4 separate regions of the Homo sapiens genome follow, and all the other regions are linked to region 1. Evidence: fine-mapped expression QTL. A gene starts in region 1. Each other region holds a variant in brackets. All regions are shown on one strand. Distances are between the middles of the regions.

What was found. PIP is the estimated chance that this variant, and not a neighbour inherited with it, causes the effect.
Region 2: its variant is fine-mapped to the expression of LPIN1 in whole blood (INTERVAL, PIP above 0.99).
Region 3: its variant is fine-mapped to the expression of LPIN1 in anterior cingulate cortex (GTEx, PIP 0.96).
Region 4: its variant is fine-mapped to the expression of LPIN1 in whole blood (INTERVAL, PIP above 0.99).

The regions. Positions count from the first base shown.
Region 1 is chr2:11,743,480-11,748,629 of GRCh38, reverse strand. LPIN1 (lipin 1) reads right to left here and starts at 1,998. Exons shown (of 21, transcript NM_001349206.2): 1 at 1,959-1,998. It overlaps LOC124907735 (a long non-coding RNA gene), which reads left to right and starts at 3,171. Exons shown (of 2, transcript XR_007086220.1): 1 at 3,171-4,802. RefSeq lists enhancers at 75-746, 3,258-3,831 and a silencer at 1,750-2,319.
Region 2 is chr2:11,823,055-11,828,204 of GRCh38, reverse strand. It overlaps LPIN1 (lipin 1), which reads right to left. Exons shown (of 21, transcript NM_001349206.2): 21 at 796-3,573. The coding sequence ends at 3,414. Among named protein-coding and RNA genes, the nearest start is that of MIR4262, 11 kb to the left of the region's middle. RefSeq lists an enhancer at 412-521. The variant T/C (reference allele first, on the strand shown) is at 2,790.
Region 3 is chr2:11,095,056-11,100,205 of GRCh38, reverse strand. It overlaps FLJ33534 (Putative uncharacterized protein FLJ33534), which reads left to right. Exons shown (of 9, transcript NR_040080.1): 9 at 143-355. Among named protein-coding and RNA genes, the nearest start is that of FLJ33534, 35 kb to the left of the region's middle. The variant C/G (reference allele first, on the strand shown) is at 2,629.
Region 4 is chr2:11,775,092-11,780,241 of GRCh38, reverse strand. It overlaps LPIN1 (lipin 1), which reads right to left. Exons shown (of 21, transcript NM_001349206.2): 6 at 4,049-4,156; 7 at 597-723. Among named protein-coding and RNA genes, the nearest start is that of MIR548S, 10 kb to the right of the region's middle. RefSeq lists an enhancer at 115-1,314. The variant A/G (reference allele first, on the strand shown) is at 2,463.

The DNA.
Region 1 (5,150 bases):
GCGTCAGCCAGGACTGTCCCAACCCCACAAAGAGCCCCTCCTCGCTGGCACCCTGTGGCACTTTAAAATCATAACAACCACAATGATTCGTGGACCCCATATTATGTTCCAGGGGCTCTTTTTTATCTCAATTAATTTTTGCAACAATCCTGTGAATGGGTATGATTATCCCTTCATTTTACAGATGGGAAAACTGAGGCTCAGAGGATTGAAGTCTTCTGCCCAAGTTCTACATCTGTGAGTGGTCAGAACAACAACTGCAAAGCCCAGTGCTCTGTGCCGGCCTCGGCGCATCTCAGACCACGGTGGCCTCAGGACCTTCTTCTGAAATATCTTTTCATCTCCTGACCCTCCCCTGCCGTCTGTTCTGGGCCCTTTGTGCAGCTGACCACGCAAAGAGCAGGAGAGCAGGACCCACAGACTTCCTTCTGGCTGGGCCAGGCCAATTGTCCCCACCTAATCCAGGGCAGGCTCCTTCTCAGTCACTTCCAAGGTCCCCCCTACAACCAGGAATCCCTGCGGTCTCTCACCTGAACCCTCGCGTTCTCTCCCACACCACAAGACTCAGCAGGTCCGCCCCTTGTCCCCCTGTGCTTTTCTAAAAGAAAGGAACTGCTGATAAGCGAGACCTGGGTGGGTGAAAGAACTCGCTCAGGGTCCCACAGAGCTCAGGCAGAGCCCAGACCTCCCGACCCGAGTCCAGGGCTATATCCAGGCCTGGCTCCACAGGACCACAGGGCCCCACATGCAAATAGGAATAATAAGCGCCAAAACACACAACCCATGCACAAAAACACTCAATAACAAATGCTGGCAAACGTGAAGTGCTATCAAAGTATATAATCATAAATCCAACTGTTACACCTTTCAACAAGAATCTGGGAGCAAGAAAAGTGTTCATGTGTGGATGTGCTTATTTCTCAAATACTATACATTCCTCAACTGCTTACTTTCATTAATAAGACCCAAATTACGGAACAAAGGATAAACAGTCAATCTCACAATCACTACCCCTAGACCACCATACCACAACACCCCCAATTAAAAAAACGGCTACAAGCTTTGATTTCCCAAAACACTTCTATCCTGTGGGAAACTGCCGGGTTCTAAAACATCTCCAAATTAATACTGCCAGTTGTCTTAGTTGGTTTCCTGCTTGCTGATCAAAAACAGGGTTGACATCTGCTTTCTCCAGCAACTACTGACCACACAAATTACCTACTCTAGCTCCACAGCACTTAAGTTACTCCCAAAACGTTACTTCTCATCCTGCATTTTCCTGGCCTTGCCCATAATAAAATTACGTGCAGGAGCAGCTGACGGAGCTCACTAGGCCTAGCACCTCCTAGGCTGCAAGAAAGGTGCAGAGGCCTCGCAGGGGAGAGCTGTAATATGAGAACCGGGATTCCAACCTGGGCTCAGCCTGCCCTGCCGCCCGGCAACTGTATGACCTTGGGCACAGAGGTCAACCTCCCTGAGCCTCAGTTTCCTCAACTGCAGCGCTGGAATCCTAACTCCGGGGGAAAGAAAGGCTCTCATCCCAGTCCCCGGCGCAAAGCTGGGGATGATCGCGCAGAGCCAGGACGCACCCGCGCTGGCCGGCTGGAGCTAGTCCCCGCGGTTCTGGGACTGCGCGGCAGCCCCCAGTGGCCCCTACGCCGCTCGAGATCAGCCAAGCCGGGCCCACACCGGGCCTCGCGGCGCGTCAGGAAAGCCAGGCCCGAGGGATGCTCGCGAGGCCCTCCCGGCCTCCGGGGCCTGTTTCCCCGCCTCCCTCCCCCGAACCACTTCCCGTAGAGGGCCCCGGGGACGTAGCCCGGCCGTCGGTCCTCGGGCCCCGGGGCCGAGCCCCCGCCTCGCCACGCGTCCTCAGCGCCCCGGCGCCGCGCCCCGCCCCGCCTAACCCGAGGCTGCGGCCCCTGCTCCACAGCGGGAGGCTGGAGGCGGCGGCTACTCACCGAGCGGCGCCGCGCGTGGCCGCCTTTGTATTGCAAACACCCAGCCCGCCGCCGGCTGTCAGCGCAGCTCGCCTTCGGGGGCGGGGCAGGGGCGGGGGCAGAGGGCAGGGGCGGGGCAAGCGGGGCGGTGCGAGGGGGACTCGGGACGCGCTGGTGGCCCGGCTGCTTTCAGGGCCTGCTGGCCGGCCCTGCCCGCTCACCCCTGGCCGCCTATCTTAGCGTTCCTGGGGGTGGGGCCCCTTAGGCCGCCTTTCTGATTTTCCTTTCCAGAGCCAAACTCGTGTGTTTCTTCAACACTCTGACTTGACCTATGCCGATGACTGGGGGAGTGAGGACGGAGGGGTGCAGAGAAAAGGCAGCCAGGTAAAAGTCCAGGTAAACCACCCAGGGCCTGGCCGCGATCACGTCGGTCCTATGGGTCCCGCTTATCACCAGTGGCGGGATCTGAGCCCGTCCTTGACTTTACTGACCCTCGCCCTTCGTTTCTTCCACCTTAAAGGCGCAATCGCGTTGACCTATCGCCATCTCTTCTTAGCTTCTCCACGCCGGGCCACCCCTGTCCTTCATCCTGATGGTGACAGCCTCCACTCCCGCCTCTGCCAAGCGGTGGTCCAGGTGCGGAACGGTGGCTCTGAACAGGAGGGACAGGCAGCTCCCTGCGCCTCTCCAGCCGGGAGGCAGGCAGCGGATAAACAATGAGCCACATAACGTCTGGTGGTGAAATGATTTCCATCAATGGGAGGGTGTCATATTTGAACTGAAACTCTAAATGACAAGAAACACCTATGACTACAAAGATGGGGAGGAGGCAGGGCTTTCTGGAGAGCAGAAATGGCAGGTGCAAAGGTCCTGGGGCCGGTGCTGTGGGCTGGAGGGAAGGCAGGGGCCAAATATTCAGGTCTTGTAGGCCAAGGCAAGGAGTTTAGGTATTATTTAAATGTTATTCCAAACCAATTCTTTTTGAGACAGGGTCCCACTCTGTCACCCAAGCTACAGTGCAGTGGCACAATCTCGGTTCACTGCAGCCTTCACCTTCTGGCCTCAGGCAATCCTCCTGCCTCAGCCTCTCAAGTAGCTGGGACCACAGGTGCATGCCACCACGCCCAGCTAATTTTTCAAACTATTTGTAGAGACCAGGTCTCCCTATGTTGCCCAGGCTGGTCTCAAACTGCTGGGCTCAAGCAGTCTTCCCACCTTGGCTTCCCAAAGTGCTGAGATTACAGGTGTGAACCACCACGCCTGGTCCAAAAAGAATTTTAAACCTGGGAATTATATGATCTAATTTACTTCTTTAAAAAGTCACCCCTCCACTCCATGGAAAATGGACTGCAGGAGTAGAAGCCAGCAGACAGGTGGCACTGCAGGAAACCGGGGGACATGATGGTGGCTCAGATTACAGGGGCTACTCAGCAAGAAGCGGAAGGACTTCAGAGAGATTTGGAGGCAAAACCCACAGGCTTACTGATGAATGGAACCGGTGGAGGTGTGTGATGCGATACTCAAAGGCAAGTCTCAGTGTGGAGATGGAACCGCTGCTCTGCTGAGATGCAGAGGGCCAGGGAGGAGGCCAGCTTAGAAACAGCATCGAATGCGGCAGCTTAGTGAATTGGATAAGCCAGCAAGCTTGAGATAGATGTTTGGGGACAGCTGCTTGGAGAGCTTTGTCCAGGGGCGCGGCTCCCGTCCATCTGGTCAAGTGTGGACACGCTCCCGCTGGGCTTGGGGCAGCTCCTATCTAGGCAGCCTGTCCCATGCTGACATTGCAGACGTGGGAGCTACACAAAGAGAATCTTGCAGTTTGTAGGTGAGCTACCTCCACAGGGGTTTTCTCAGAGACCAGAGTTTCAAGTGCATCACGGCTGCCCAAAACTGCTGAGGTTGCAAGGCCCCAGAAGGAAGCCCTCCTGCACCCTCCCCTCCCACCTCCAGGGAGGAGCTGGCCTGGGAAGAAGTCTACTCTATGTGGAAAGGCTTTCCAGGAAGCCAGTCCAACTTCAGGCCACTTAAGTTTATTTTTTGTGTAAAATAAGTCCATTATTCAAATGTGGAGATGGGAGGTCTGAAAATATAGGACAATTCAACTCAAAGCCCTCATTCTGAAAATGATGAGCTGGGGGGCCCAGCACGGCTAGGGTCAGCTCTGATGAGCAGGGTCTGGCTGGATTCAGAGCAAATTAGGTCCCGCTGCTGCCCAGCCTACCACCTCGGGGAAGGCCAAGGGTTGGGGGGAGCCTTTTGTATAAACAAGCAATGAGAAGAAAACACTCACTAGATCACAGTGCACTCCCAGGCGATAAACGAAACCGGACTTTCCAAAGCCCTGGCGCTTTTGATCAGGCACTGGCTGGAGTCCCCCTGGGAGGGCCCTTGGCTGTGCTATCAGCAACCAGGCCTGACTGAGCAGTGACTCAGCCAGGAGAGCTGAGGCGATCCCCCTGGCCAATCCCAGGACCTAGCTGCACTCGGAAGAGGAGAAGGAACTCCAGGGATGAGTAATCTTGCTCTAGCTGACTGGAGGAGGAAGGAGGGGCTGAGTAATGCCTTAGCAAAGCCAGCACAAGCATCCTGATTCTAGAGGCTCAGTTTCACAATCCAGGAAATGGGCTGCAGGTGCACATGACACAGATCTGCTTTGAGGATGAAAAAGGCATCATGGGAAGCTGCTGTCACAGTTGTGGGGTTGGAAGATTTTTCAATTCTAAAACCCCATAAGTTGAGGAGTGGCCATTCCCAGAAGGATCTGTTCACTGCTGAGCCCAGCTGGTGACAGTAGCTGTTGTATCCCGAGAACTCTGAAGTTGTCCAGATCAACCACCTACACAGGCCCAGAATACCTGGGGCAAGGTAGGCGGGAAGAATGAGCATCCCTCTTCACGGGTGCCCTGCGAGCTACTGTAGGAAGGAGAAACACTGGCTGATCCCCCAGGACTCTGAGCATGGTTAGCTCTGTAACTGCCCGGGCAGAAAGGATCCCAAAGAGAGGACAATGAATTCTTCCCCTAGAGGTGCAGACTTTTATCCCTGGCACCAGTGCCTGGGGCTCCGGGGAAGGGAGGGCATCTCCTCGGGGTCTAAGGCCACTCCTTGGTTGGGGGCCCCTCACGAGGTGACTTTGTCCTGCGCACTCTCTTAAGAACCAGGTGGGAACCAGGGGCCACCTGGTGCCGCTTCACTACCTTGGTGGCAGGGAAC
Region 2 (5,150 bases), 80 kb before region 1:
AGGCCAAAGACAATAGTCTAGACAAATTTTTATTTTATAGATAAAAGAGCCCGCACACTGAAGTCCGAGTTGGAACAAATCCGTGATGGTGTTCAACAAAATTAGAAGGTTTTGTTTTTTAAGATGCAAAAGCATTAATTCTACAGGCACCTAGAGATGAACCGTTTGGATTTGGGCTTCATTAGGAATTGGGCCTAGTATCCTGGCCGGCTATGTTGCATTTAGGGGGCCAATACTTTTCCATTTATTCCAAAAACGCTTAGGCTGATGCAGGTAAATCAATAGGAAGCTTCCAGCCACGTTGACATGTAAAATCAATAGGAATTATGACAGTTTTCAGCTTATATGATTGCACTAGTCAAGGATTTTGATTCATTCAAAATGAAAAATGAATCTGGGGTTTACCACAGAGAAGAGTCGAAAAAATGAGGACAGCAGCTGTGAGGCTGGGGAACCCCCATGTGCTAAACACCAATTCTAGGCCAGGCCCTGGGAGGCACTTCATGAAATTCACTTGATTGAAACCTCCCTACTCCTGAATCATCCCACCAGGGCAGGGAGGGATCCCGGGTGCAGCCTTCTCCTCTCTTTCTTCATCCCTCCCGTCCCCAGCAAGTGCATAGAGAAGGCTGGTCTTTTACCCATTTAAATCTAAAACATCAGGAAAAACATTTATTCCAAATAGTGAACAATTCATAGCCTGAAGATTTTTTTTAGAATATGCTTGATAACACACCCCAGAAAAGTCAACAACTTAGTAACTTACCAAAAACTATTTAAAATTCACACACCTGATTTTCAGAGAAGTCTTTCATCGGTCTCATTTATTGCAATATTTTCTAGCTTTGCATCCAGTACAACACAATGAAGTATTACAGTGATTTTTATCATTGCATCAGCATATACAAATACAGATCAAATGCAAATAAAGTGTGCTTACAGTGGTGATCCAAACATAAAATTGCAAAGGGAATTCTCTTTGAAAGTGTAATTATTTTTCTCCAATGTACCAGGTATATATTTTTCTCTATGCCAGGTATACATATTTGTCTTCATCACATGTGACAAACATTTGATGACTTGTCACTAAGTAGGATTCATTTCCATAGGGCAACTTTGAAATGTGTGGTCCAAATACAGCATTCCAGCACATGACCTCAGCATCACTGGGTTATAGTCATGTACACAAAGATAAACCAACTCGTATATGCGTGAGTGCAGCCCATATACAAATCTCACTTTCAGAAGCCAGAAGGCAGGTGTTAATATGCCAGCCTTGCCAGGGCTCACATTGAACTTGACACAGATCTGAGAGTGTGACTTTCTGGAAAGCATGCTCTGTTTCAGGGTGCAGTGATGTGGAAGTTTAAGGTACATCAAAATTCGGGATCCAAAATTGCATCCTCTGAAAACTCCGCCTGCAGGGTGTGCTGCTGCAGAGGGCTGCCTGGATGCCAACTGCATGAGGGATACATCCCCCCATTCTCGCAGCCAAAGTTCCTCCTGGGTGCAAAGGAGAAACCGTCTGAACCTTTGCAGGCCCATGAGCTTATACTTAGTTCAGAGCAGTTAAAATTCACTCAAAAATACCCTCATTGCATAAAGAATGAATATAGCCTCTTTAGGTTACTAGTGAACAAGCGCAGAGGAGTTAGTTAAGGCAGGACTTTTTTTTTTTTTTTTTTTTTTTTGACATGGAGTCTTACTCTGTCACCCAGGCTGGAGTGCAGTAGTGCAAGCTCGGCTCACTGCAACCTCAGGCAGGACTATTTTTAATTATTTTTAATACCTGCAAAAGGGAATCTGCACATGCACATCCGTGTTTCTACAGAAATCTGCGATCGATGGCAGATCTGTTTGCCTTTGTGTGTCCACATGAACCATTTGGCAAAGGCATCCAATGCTAACGGGGCCCACCAACTACAACGGAGGCAACAACTCTGTGGATTTTCTTTCACAGAAAGAGTAAAATTTCATTCAACCGTTCCATTTTTTGCCTCCTGTGATTCTAACAATGAAATTTAAATAGGAAAATGTTTCAATCGTTGGAGTAAAACACTCTTTAAAAAAATAATGCTTCGAAAAGTAAAGCAAAATCTTTTACCAAAATAATTCTTTCACTTTTCAAATTGTTCTGTCCACGAGCCAGTGTAATAAACAAGTGAAAGAATCACATTCTGTAGGCTTAAAGAATGCCAAATTATTACTTTTTCGCTTGCCCTTAATTTGAGTGGAAAAAGCTAAGGAAAATAAATGACTCAGAAATTCCAAAAGAAGGTCAGTCTATGAGAAAGAGAGAATAAGGCCCTTTCGATAGTCTAACACATACATCTTTTTAATATATTAATGACAGTGGTATAGAAAGAATATGAATAAATGCCTATCACAGTAACCTAATCAGAGTAAAACAATACATAATATCTAAAAGAATATAGTTGAACTTCTTGAAACTATTTTCTTAAAACCAACCAGTTTCTTTGGAGAGCTCCCAACAGAAGTCAGTATCATTATCATTTGGCATAAGTGTGCTCAAGTCCACACTGTCAGCACCACCTCGCTGGATGGAAGGAAGCCGGCAGTGTCAAACTCATTCAAAATACTGCCTTAGTAATATTTACTGTCATTTTAATCTAAGGCGTTGCAAAGTTACCATGAGCTAGATAAAGCGCATTCTTAAATGTCTGCCATAGATATATTAAGGCATAAATATTCCAGCCTTGAGCCACAAAAACTGGGGGGAGATATGCCAATGAAATAGACTATCTTTAACCAAAGGAATTAAAGAAAAA[T/C]TTATCACCTAAAAATGAGACTAGTCAGCAAATACTGTAAGGGGCCCATCCACAAGGCCAAGTCTGAGGCCAGGCCTGGACCCGGTGGCGTCCAGATTTCTATCAGAGACCTCAGATCCAGGTCACATGAGCCTTCACAGCCCTCCCCACTGTGTTCAGAAGGTGGTGGCACTAACATTGCTATAATGGAAATGTGCCCCCTACTTTGCCAAAAACCGTGCACATCTGGCATTCCTCGATTGACCCTGTCCTAGGCGGGGACAGCCCTCAGACAGCCGCCTTCTGCCTAGGTTTCACAGCCCCAAACTGCACGTGAACCAGTAGCTACTTGCTGGAGCAGGCCGGAAAGGCAGCGTCGTAACTGGCATTAAGCCACAACTGAGGAATGCTTTTCACGGTACAAATGCACCCAACTCCTAGCCTAGAAAGTGCTCCCTTCCTATCTTGCTTAGAAATGTCAGCCCCGGGGTGGGGCAGGGGAGAAATGCTTCTCAATTCTCTCTGCTGTCAGGCCAATGATGACGCGCCAGGCTCCCAGGTGGAGCTGTGCACTCCGGGGAGACCTATCCTTTAATGGGTGACAACCAGGCTCTGCACTGCTGGCAAGAGGCTGCTTGGGACATTTTACGCTGAGGCAGAATGAATGTCCTGGTTTTCAAAAGGTGGCAGTGGCTCTCTCCAAAAGGTGAAGTTACTGAAGGTATCCGAACAGGGAAAGTCTGAAGAATGGCTTCTTTTCAGCAACGGGAAAACGTGGTCGACTACTTCACAGAGTCTCACATACCTGGAAGGAAAGGGACATTGTCACTGGCACTGAGCGATACCAGCTATGCACCCAGGGCTGCACGTAGAAGTCAAGAGAGATCTACAACCTCAAGGAGCAGACCGCCTACTTATCGACACGACTCAAGTCATTCTAGAATAATTTGTTATCGATTAATTGAAAATGAGAGATGAAAATGAAGAGTATGCAAACAAGGCATCAGAGAAGGCTCTGGGGAAGAGGTGGGTGGGACCTGACTTCACTTGAAGGACAGGTAAAGGAGATACAGCCAAGCAAAAGACGGCAGGAGGAAGTCACCATGGCCATGGGATAGCGCCTGCTGCAGGGGTCACATATGGGACATCGGGGGAAGAATCACAGACAAGGCACATCTTTGGAGCACCTGACAGAGATTGCTTCATTGCATAGTGAAAAGGAGCTGGGTCCTGGGGTTAAAGAGACATTAATTTGATGTTCAGCTCTGCCATTTACTAGCTGCGTGATCGTGGGCAAATGGCGTAACCTCTCTAAGCCAATTTCCTCCACTGTAAAGGGAGGAAAATAAAAACTATGCCACAGTTTTAAGGATAATTTAAATAAAATAACATATGCAACATTAAAATAATGTATACTGGGTGCTCAAATGTATCTAAATGACAAATTATCAACACGTCTTAGAGAAAAAAGCCCTGGTTGGCATGACGGTCAAGAGACCCGGGCTCTCCTGCTTGCTGTAACCTTGGACAATTGTCTTGCCCTCTTGGAGCCCTTCGTCTTTATAGTCTGTGGAGCTGAATTAGAGCAGGGCTTCCCAATGCTTCCTACAACGTTCTCTTGCTCTCTTTTATTTGCATGCCCAAAAATATGTTGCATGTTAGTTTCTGTGGCTTATACTATGAAAAGAAAGTTGCTATTGCTATATTGAATATGCATGTTCAGACCTCCAGGCACCTCCAAACTGAGATTCTGGCACACCCAGCCCACTGCCAGCCATCCCCAGATTCCTCCTTGACAGTCACTGATCACTGTCTAGTTCCAAATTGCTAAGAACCTAAAGGAACTTCCAAAATCCAGACTCCAGAAGTGTGCATGTTCTGAGGTATAAAATAATGTACTAAATGAAGCCGAGTGTGTATATTTAATAAAGGACCTCCAAAGGACTTATGAGAAACAGTGTGCTTGCACAAAATGGGAAAGTGACGTCTCCTAATACAAAACCAAGAGTTATGTCTTTCCTTGGGATTCAAACAAACAGACAGATTTTTAAAATACCTCCCGGCTTTAAGGCTTATTTGTCTGAGGTTTGTGGCTGCGGCAGCAGGGCCCCTCCCTGCAGGCTTGACTACAAGGCCGCGGTGCACTGGAACCAAACCCACTCTCACACTCCCTGAGCGGCCAGGCCGAGTTCCATCTGCGCGCCTCCCCCAGACCGACCTCCACACACAGTGCTCCTCCCAAGCAGGCAGAGCTTACGCACAGACACTCGCAAACGAAAGGGAAAAAGAACTGAGCTGCTCCCGCTGTGTGGCCCCAGCCTCTGAAGACATTTCAGATGACTGTCCCAGTTCTGAATGACAAGCATCTACTTGGCTCAGAAA
Region 3 (5,150 bases), 650 kb after region 1:
TCCCATTGAACAGGTAGGCAAACCGAGGCTCTGGGAAATTTAGTGATTTTGTTTAGATCATGCAGCCATACAGTTTAGGGGATGTGGAGGTCATGGGAGCAGGATCTGAAATCATCACACTGGGTGTTAATTGTTCCTTAAATCCTGATCCCTGACTGCCATCTGGACTTGGAGGCAGGGTTAGGGAAGATCCTGCTCCTGGAAGGAGAAAGATGTGGAGTGGAGAAAATCTCAGCCACCAGGAAGACAAATGGGAGGACGGAGCCTTCCCGCCAGGCAGGTGGTGAGGAAGAGTGGGGTAGAGCCAGGCGGCACAGGCAGCAGCCCTTGATGTGCCAAGGCTGGAGCGTGAACTGGCTCTTGCAAGAAGAGGTCCTTTGAGGACCCTGCGGCTCCAGGACTTTCTGCAGAAGTGGGTGCTCCTCCCCAGGAAAGGAAAGGCGCATGATTTTGAGCAGCACTGGGCTTTTCCAGCGCCAAGAGAATTTCTCCTGAGTTTCAGACAAGAGCCTTTCCAGATTCTTCCTTGAAGCCCTACTGGGGAGAAGTGTGCCACTGAGCTGATGGGGGGATGCGACTTGGGGGACGGAACGTCAGCTGCCATGTCAGTGCCAGGGGCACTAGGCTGGCAAGAGAGCCACCATTTCTGCCCAAGCACTAGCCAGGGGATGATGGACATTGTGACAAAGAAACAAGGACAGTTGGGTGTGACAGTGACAATGGGCTCTCTGTGTGCCATGACATAGCAGGAAAGGCCAGGCCAGACGGACTGTGGATGTCTGATGGCTTTGAGTGAACTCAACAACCATTGACTAGGTGAAGAATGGGAAGGGCACCAGCTGAATCCTGAGGACCATCATCTGTTGAGCACCTACTGCCACCGTGTGCTCTGCATGCGTCACCTCACTTAATTTTCCCAGCAGCCATGGCCAGTAAATGTTATTGTATCCCATTTGACAAGTAGGCAAACTGAGGCTCTGGGAGATGTAGTAATTTTCTTTAGTTCATGCAGCCGTGCCTTACACAAGGGGTGCAGGATTTGAATTCTGTGCTTCTGTAACAGGGATATTATCCCTGTGAGGCCACCTAATAGGAGGCATGCTGTCAGAAAAGAAAATTCTGACCAGGCTACTGGCCTCTTTTCTTTCTTTCTTTTTCTTTTCTTTCTTTTTAAAAAAACAAAACAAAACAAAACAAAACAAAGCCAAAAAAAAAACAAAAAACAAAAAACAAGAGTCTCTGGCTGGGCACAGTGGCTCACACCTATAGTCACAACACTTTGGGAGGCCAAGGCAGGTGGATCACTTGAGGTCAGGAGTTCAAGACCAGCCTGGCCAACATGGCAAGATCCTGTCTCTACTAAAAATACAAAAATTAATCGAGTGTGATGGTGTGCACCTGTAATCCCAGCTACTCGGGAGGCTGAGGCACGAGAATCACTTGGACCTGGGAGGCAGAGGCTGCAATGAGCCAAGATTGTGCCACTGCACTCCAGCCCAGGGAACAGAAAGAAACCAGGTCTCAGAAAAAACAAACAAACAAACAAACAAACAAAGGAAAATTCAGAAGTGGGACTGAGTGATTTTCATCAATTACTTTGTTTATTGACACACTTTATTTGACACACTTTATATTGACACACTATATTTGACACTATATTTATTGAGCACTGTTATTTGCTAAATTAGGAAGACAGATAAAGGCTCACGAAAGAGGAGTTGGCCAGGTTTGCAATGGCTTCTCTGGGGTCACCAGCCAGTTAGGGCAGCACGAGGACCAGAACTGGGGGCTCCCAGCACCTGCCCTTCAGGGTTTTCAGGAGGCCACGTGCTTCCATGGAAGAGACTGCTTCCTTTTCCGATGGGATTGAGACTGAAGGTTGCATTCCCTGCGTCCTGGTCACGAACATTAAATGTAACACGATGACATAATTATAGAAATGGATAACACCCCAAGCCTCCTTAACCACCTGTTCTAATCATCGACAGCCCAGAACACATTGTAATAATTTGTCACCCATTTTTAAGGTACAATGCACTAACTCTTAATAAAGCGAGAGATGAGCAAATAAACATGCACGCCAGTCTGAATGCTATAATTAGAACTACCATTTGGTTAAAGAAAAATGGAGACGTTTTAATTTCAGGCCTCTGCTTGAATTCTGCTTGAATGTGAAGTTGCTGCTAGGGAACAAGCCACGTGTGTGAACACATCGAGTTCTGAGGACACGGTGGCATCTTGAGAAGGTATTTGTTTGTGAGTGAGGCTGGGGTGAGCTCTGTACATTACTAGATTCTTAAGTTCCGTGTTTATCTCCCAGGGCCAATCTAACATGATAATTAGTATTTTTCAGATATTCCTGACAGTTACTCAGGATGATGATTTCACATAAAATTTCTAACTCTATTGATATAACAGGTTGGCATCATTCTTTGACACCAATGGGTTGGGTGATGATAGGATGAACACAAATTATTCATTCATTTAATAAATAATTAGGACATACGTGTCTGTTATTTCCAGGGAAGCCAGGAAGTGTGTTTTCCTCGCTGTCTTCACAAAAACACCTCAGCCTTCTGTTCTGACCACTGAGTTAACATTTACAAGAGTGACTCCTTTAGGCCCCGT[C/G]AGTCCAAGTGCTCAGCAAAACTGACCAGAGCAATCCAGAAGCAGAAACCTACTCTCTCTGCAGTGTCATGAGTCAGCTAGATTTTAGACTTCATTCCTTCTTGGTTACTCAATTAGAGAAATTTCAAACTCCTGAGCCACAGGGAGGATGGGTACTCGCTTCCTATGCCCATCAGAGGGAGGGAGTAGGATGATTTCAGGTAATCAAGTTGGTGTACTTTGAAAATCAACCCATGCAGAATAAGAACCTTCCTGGAGAAGAGACCACACCCCCGGTGGGCCTCCGCCAAGGCACTCAGTTCCCTGGCATCGGTGAGTGCTCGGTGGAATGGTGGCCACTTCCAGCACTGGTCGCAAGCCAGGCACTGTGCTAAGCTCGGAGGCCTCCAGCACCACCCACGAGGAGGGTCCATGCTCTGAAACCTCCACGTGATGCAGCCACCAGCATCACCTGGAGGACCCTTTAAAATGCAGATTGCAGGGTGCCCCCAGACAGGGCTGCCAAACTTAACAAACAAACATTCAGGACATCCGATTAAATTTGAATTTCAGATAATGAATTATCATTTAATATAAGCATGACCCAAATATTGCGTGGATAATATTAATCATCTGTCTGAAATTCAAATTTAGCGGATGACCTGTAGTTTGTCTGGCAGCTCTACCCCCCGGGTTTCTGAAATGGCAGGTCTGTGCTGGGGCTTGAGGATTTGTATTTCCAGTAAGTTCTCGGGTGATGCCGATGCTGCTGGCCAAGGCCACACTTGGAGAACCACCGAGGAAGGTAATGTTATGATCCCCACTTTATGGTGAGTCAGATGGGGCACAAAAAGGCTAAGCAACGTGTCCAAGGTCACAGCTCTGGCTGGGACCCGGGGAGCCTGGCTTCCAGGTCTGCTTGTTAGCCACGGTGCCACCCCACCCCAACGAGAGGTGCTTCTCAGAAGTGGTGCAGCACCCCCACCCTCACCCCCACCCCCACCTCCACCCTCACCCCCACCCCCACCCCCAGGCTGTCTCCTCACATGCTTACTCCCAAAGTATTCTGGAGGTAAAGCCAAAATGGTTATTTTATTTTATTTTTTTTTGAGATGGAGTCTTTCTCTGTCACCCAGGCTGGAGTGCAATGGCGTGATCATGGCTCACTGCAACCTCCGCTTCCTGGGTTCAAGCGATTCTCCTTCCTCAGCCCCCTGTGTAGCTGGGACTACAGGCATGTGCCACCATGCCCAGCTAATTTTTATATTTTTAGTAGAGGTAGAGTTTCACCATGTTAGCTAATCTGGTCTTGAATTCCTGACCTCAGGTGATCCACCCACCTTGGCCTCCCAAAGTGCTGGGATTACAGACGTGAGCCACCCTGCCCAGCCGAAATGCTTATTTTAAAATGCAAGTTGAGGCTGGATGCAGTGGCTCATACCTGTAATCCCAGCACTTTGGGAAGCCGAGGCGGGTGGATCACTTGAGGTCAGGAGTTCGAGACCATGCTGGCCAACATGGCGAAACCTCGTCTCTACTAAGAATACAGAAATTAGCTGGGTGTGGTGGCACACACCTGTAATCCTAGCTACTCAGGAGGCTGAGGCATGAGAATTGCTTGAACCCGGGAAGCAGAGGTTGCAGTGAGCTGAGATCATGCCACTGCACTCCAGCCTGGTGGAGAGAGTGAGACTGTCTCAAAAAAAGAAAAATAAAAAAGTAAATGCAGGTTGAATTATGCTTCTCCTTCACTCAAAAGTGGACAATGACATCCATGTTCATCAGTAAAGCCTACATTCTGACTGTGGCCCTGACGTCCCCTCTGGCCTTATTTCCCACCGCCTCCCCCATTCATGCTTCTCCAGGCACACTGGCCTTCGTGCTGCCTTTGAACATTTCAGGCAGACTTCTGCCATAGTGCCTTTGCACCTGCTGTTCCTCTGCCTGGAATTCTCTTTTTCAACAAGCCCACATGGCTCCCTCACTGCATTCAGGTCGCTGGCACAATGTCACCTCTTGAGAGTTTTTCCCAGTGATCCAGCTGAGACAGCAGCTTTCTTCATCAACCTCTAGCCCCTCATCCTGCCTTTTATTCCTTTGCAGCACTTATCACCCATCAGCTGACATTCTGCATGTATATACTTGCATGTACACCTGTTTATCTGTCCTATTTATCTCCATCCACTAAAAGGTAAGCTCTGTGAAAGCAGGTCATTTGTTTTATGCACTACCTGGAACAGTGCCTGGTAATAGATGGTGCTCAAAAACCAAGACTGGATTAACTGCCTGTATCAGGCGCAAGTTCACCTGTTGGAATTCAGTGTCAAGACGCTACCCCTGCCCTTGCGGAGCTCAAGCTAACATGGAAGAGAGATGCAGAAAGATACAGTTATGCAACAGTGTGGCAAATGCAATGCTGAAGATCTGCTTGGGCGCAGCTCCGATGTATCCATCTCAGTTTGGAAAATGGCTCACACTTAAAGCTTTTTAAAAACGAGGTTAGTAGAATCTCAGTGAGAAAGTTCCATCTTTGCTGCACGAGA
Region 4 (5,150 bases), 32 kb before region 1:
TGTGTAAGTTGTATTTCTTTAATTTAATTTGCATTTAGCTGTGATAGAAAATGTAGATCCTGGCTGGGCACGGCAGCTCACGCTTATAATCCCAGCACTTTGGGAGGCAGAGGCAGGCGGGTCACTTGAGGTCAGCAGTTCAAGACCAGCCTGGCCAACACGGTGAAACCCCGTCTCTACTAAAAATACAAAAATTAGTGGGGCGTGGTGGCATGCGCCTGTAATCCCAGCTACTCGGGAGGCTGAAGCAGGAGAATCGCTTGAACCTGGGAGGCAGAGGTTGCAGTGAGCCAAGATAGAGCCATTGCCCTCCAGCCCGGGTGACAGAGTGAGACTCTGTCTCAAGAAAAAAAAAAAAAAGTAAATCCTAAGAGGAATCCCATAGGTTTAAAATCTACAAAAGCAATGAGACCTCTCTATAATGTTGGTAACGTGGAAGAAAGTAATTCCAACATTCAAGGCTAACCCTTAATATATTTTGGTTTACCTCTGGCTCCTGGTAGCTGTGTTTCTTGGCTATGCTATGATACTAATTCCATGTAATTTAAGCTGAGTTAGAAATCTTCGGTCCGTGGCAGAATTGAAGAGACTCTCACCTTAGCAGCCTGCGGCAGCTCTCCCCACAGCCAAAGCATTTCTGGGTTCTTCTGCCCTGTCCTTTCCGTGGACTTGCTGACCAATTCTGAATCACTTTTAGGTGTTGAAGGTCGGGAACCGGAAGGACTTAAGGAAAACACAAAGCGAAAATTAAGGTGGGAAAAGAAACTTTTGTAAATGTTTTGGGCCCAGCTCCATGGCTCAAATAGCCCAGAAAATGCACCCCCAGCTGTCGTTCGCTCTGAGCGGAGCCTCATGACAAATCCCTCCTCCGGCCACCAGGGGGCAGGGAAGCGCCTCCCATGGAAGGCGCTCCACGTGGGTCGCCCGCCCCACCCTGCCGCCTGGTGCACCGCGGGGGAGAGGAGAAAAAGAAGTGGCCCAGAATACAAAAGAAAGAGATGGAAAGAGAAAGGGAAAAATAGTCTGTTCTTACCTCAAAAAGACCACCCTTCCCCACCCCACTCTGCACTCGCATCTCCTGCAATCTGTTTCCAAATCAAGTTCCTCTGCTGTCAGAGGGCTGCAAAAGGGTCTTGGTTGGCTCGGGCAGGCACTCATTAGAGTCCATATTTTAAATATTTATCATCTGCACTGGCCTGGGAAACAGGGAAATTATATGATGTGCCAATTTTACCAAAGATGCTGGATGCCACAAATAAACTCGATAACGTTGGGCAGGAGCCTACAAGTTGAAATTTTCTAAGATCTTATGTCTTCCAGGAATACTTCACAAGGGACTCACCAACTGGTTAAGGCTCGCTCAGTAACCACCTCCATGTTTCCTGAATTTTTACTCTGAAGACCCAAACAAGGTCTTACTTCTGCCCAGCCAAAGTAACCATCCAAAAGTCATTAACTTATCCACAAGATCCTCACCATATTCTAAACAACTTAGAGAAATATTATTTACAGCAGCAATTCTTGTAATTATTTATTGCCGCATAATAACATGGTTAATTATTGCTTATTTTCCCACATCATTTCCTCTAGAGGAAGGCGGCAGGGTTTTTCAGACAAAGCAGGAAATAAAGCTTTCAGTTTCCCTTGCCGTCTTCTTTCCCAGACCTTATCTATTCTTCGGAAACTGATGCTTCTGGTCTCATTTACCTAGAGTTCAACTCCAATTGAATATAACTTTCCTGTCAATACAAGGTGAGTTCATGATGATACATAACTTGTATCCAACAAACAGGGACCTTGTGGGCTAAACTGATCCTGAATCTCTTTGATCAAGCTGCATAGAGCAGCCAGACCAAGTGCCATCTCTCTCATCTCACACCAAGGGGCAGAGGGTGGTCCCTGCTCCCTTGGTGCCCATGACTCCCAGCCCTTCTAATGACGTGCTGCCACGGGGCAGCCTGCACGCTCTCTTTCGCCTGCCTGGGGAGAGGAGGCTCCTGACATCACATTAGGAGAGCTTCTGCAATGGGACACCCTGCTCCCAACAGACACACATTTCTGCCCTTTAGGGAGCAGTCCTATAAGAAGGCACGTGGGCCCCCCCACGTCCATGTGGGAAAGGCTCCTGGCCTTTCAACCTCCTTGCTCTTCCAGTTCCACAACTGGACTTCTCCAAAGAGACAACGCTTTGGTGGCACTGAAGCGTCTACAGTCACGTGTTCGGTATCACTGCAATGGGAAAAGCGCAGGCTGTGGCCTCCAGCGAGGGGCCTCAGTACCTACAAGTGTGACCGCAATCCACTCTTTCTCCAGCATCATCATGGAATAAGTCCATCAAAACCAACTTCTCACCCTCAACGGTGCTGTTCCCAAACCTCAAAGTATCTAAAAAGCTCTTGCCATTCTGTTTCACCAGACAAAATAGAACATATTTGGCTATAAGTTCTTTGCAGCAATAAATT[A/G]TCTCACTGTCACTAAATGAAATAAAGTCCTTTAGACAAAGCTTGCTCCGAACAGGGGTCGGCAAACATTTTCTGTAAAGAGCCCAGTGGCAGATATCTCGGGCTTTACGGGTTTTACGACGTCTGTCGCAACCACTCGCTGCTGTGGTGGTGTGAAAGCAGCCACAGCCAGTATGTAAACCAACTGCCTATGCCCGGGAAAGTCTGACAGAGGCAGATGGTGGACCAGATTTGACCCATGGGCCGTGCTTTACCAACCTCTGCTCTAGAAGAACGAAATGCGGAACACGGTTCTCCTGCAGCAATTCCCAACTCCAGAGTTCCTAACATTCTGGTCCCTTCATAAAAGCCACGAGCCACAAAACCCATAGAGGCACTCAGGCGTGCAACTCACGCATAAGGAGCCCAGCCCTACGAGAAAGTCTGCTGCAAGTCCCTCCCCAACAGCAAACAGGCCACCACCATAAATGCTGCCCGTTCAGGCCACAGCAACCCTTCTCCAAAGGTCTCGTGCACAAACACAGATGCGCTTTCTGCCGACCGTCACTGAGGGAATTCAGACAGACCAAAAAGGACGCAGGAATGGGGCCCACTGCCAAGTGGGATTTACCAGAAAGATGACTCCAAAGTGCTCCGTCATGAAATATTATTATTTTAAGATCAAGGGTTGTTCAAAAAAGTAAGCTTACAAGGTCAATGACTGATGTTCATAAACAAGGTATTTATTAGCCTTATCAAAGTTTTCAGTATTTTTGCCAGTCCCAATAAGGCTAGTTAGTTTTAACTATTAACAACTTTGTTTTCCTCATTTTAAACGGACTTTTCTTCTGCAAATGTAGCCTCTGAATGAAGTACATCCTGAGGTCTGGATCTTTAATCAAAAAGACAAAAGGTTTTCCACGTACAAATTAATCGTAGCTTCATTTGCTAAGGCTTACAAAGTAAACCATGTAAGTCCACAAAGTAGGTAGGTCAAAACTGAGGGAATGAAGGCAGAAATCTGAGATGACTACATCGAGTGAACACACCAACCTTTGATCCTCAGCCTGAGACCCAGCCCAGGCCATTCTCCAAGATTCTGTTCTAGAAATGCTGTGGAAAGTGTCTGACTCCATTATTCAGACAGCCCAATAAACTACTTAAATGTTTATAATAAATTAAAGTGGTATTCCAAAAATATCTTGTAAACTTATTTGTCAAACAACCCGAGACAGAAAACAGAAGATCATATTCCCAAGCTATATTTCATTATTCTCATTTTCAAAGCACTTCACAGAATTAGGTAAAATTATATGCTTAACCATAATTTCCAGAGAGTCAAATTTAGGAATTAAAAAAAAAAAAAAATCTGATCATCTACAAATGCTTATAACGAAAGGAAAAGAGTAATCTATATACATATTTTTCATAAGTAATTTGGTTAGTGAAATCGATTTGTAAAAGTTAAATCAAAATTTTCACTTCATATAATCTACAGGTATTTTCTTCATAAGTAATTTGGTTAATGGTAAAATAGACTTATAGTAAGAGTTAGATCAAATTTTTCATTATTGAATATATCCCAATGGGGAAAATAACTCCTCTACCTTTCCGAAGGATGGAACAGGGAAGACTGTGGAGGGCAAGAACTAGACAGACCTCCCTCGGCCGCAACTGCAAGATGAGGGGCAGTCCTTTTGCAATCTACCAGGCTACTGGATACCACCACGTGATACACATTAAAAGAAAGACAAAATCAGAGGTCAATTACATCAAGTGAGATTATATAAAGTATATGTAATATACTTTATATAAAGATTATATATAAGATTATATAAAGTATATATAATATACTTTAAAGACTATATATAAGATTATATAAAGTATATATAATATACTTTATATAAAGATTATATATAAGATTATATATAATTACAAAGTATATATACTTTATATAAAGATTATATATATTACGTAAAGTATTTGACTACTCTCAACAACGACATTTTTAAGAAAATAAAGAAACTCAGACATCTGATAATGGCAGAGCACCGGATATTGAAATTGCTAAGAAATCAGCATGAATTTTCTGAGACACAAAAGCAGGAAACTGCCAAATGACCTATTTCACTTTCTGTTTCACCCATGTGTAGAACTGATCATCTCTGGTCACACTTTCGTGCTTAATCAAACTACATAATCCAAAAATGTGCTCGTGTGTGCTGTCAATTGTCTCTTTACAGAAAATACCTAATTCCAAATGTGGAAATGTAGCTATTTATCCTAATTTGTCATTCCATTTGGTGATAGTCAGAGCTACATAACCTGACTCAGTCATTATGCTGCATTCATGAGGCAAAACATTACAGATGTTTTGAGCATTAAACACGCTCAGAGTTGTGTTTAAAGTGTTTCTTTTAAATCCTTAAAATTAACATACAGTGCTTGAACAGATTTTTTCATCTATTATTGGGTTCTAAATATTCTACATTATTTTCCTCCTAAACCACTATTTTTCCCTCCACTATTTTATCTCCACAGACCTAGAGAAAGAATGAGAATCTAGAAAGGTCTTATATCTGCACTGTCCAATATAATAAACCACCAGCTACAGGTGGCTCCTGAGCACTTGAAACGTGGCTTGTCCAAATTGGGATGTTCTGCGCATGTGAAATACATAATGGAGTTTATAAAGACTTGGTATGTAAA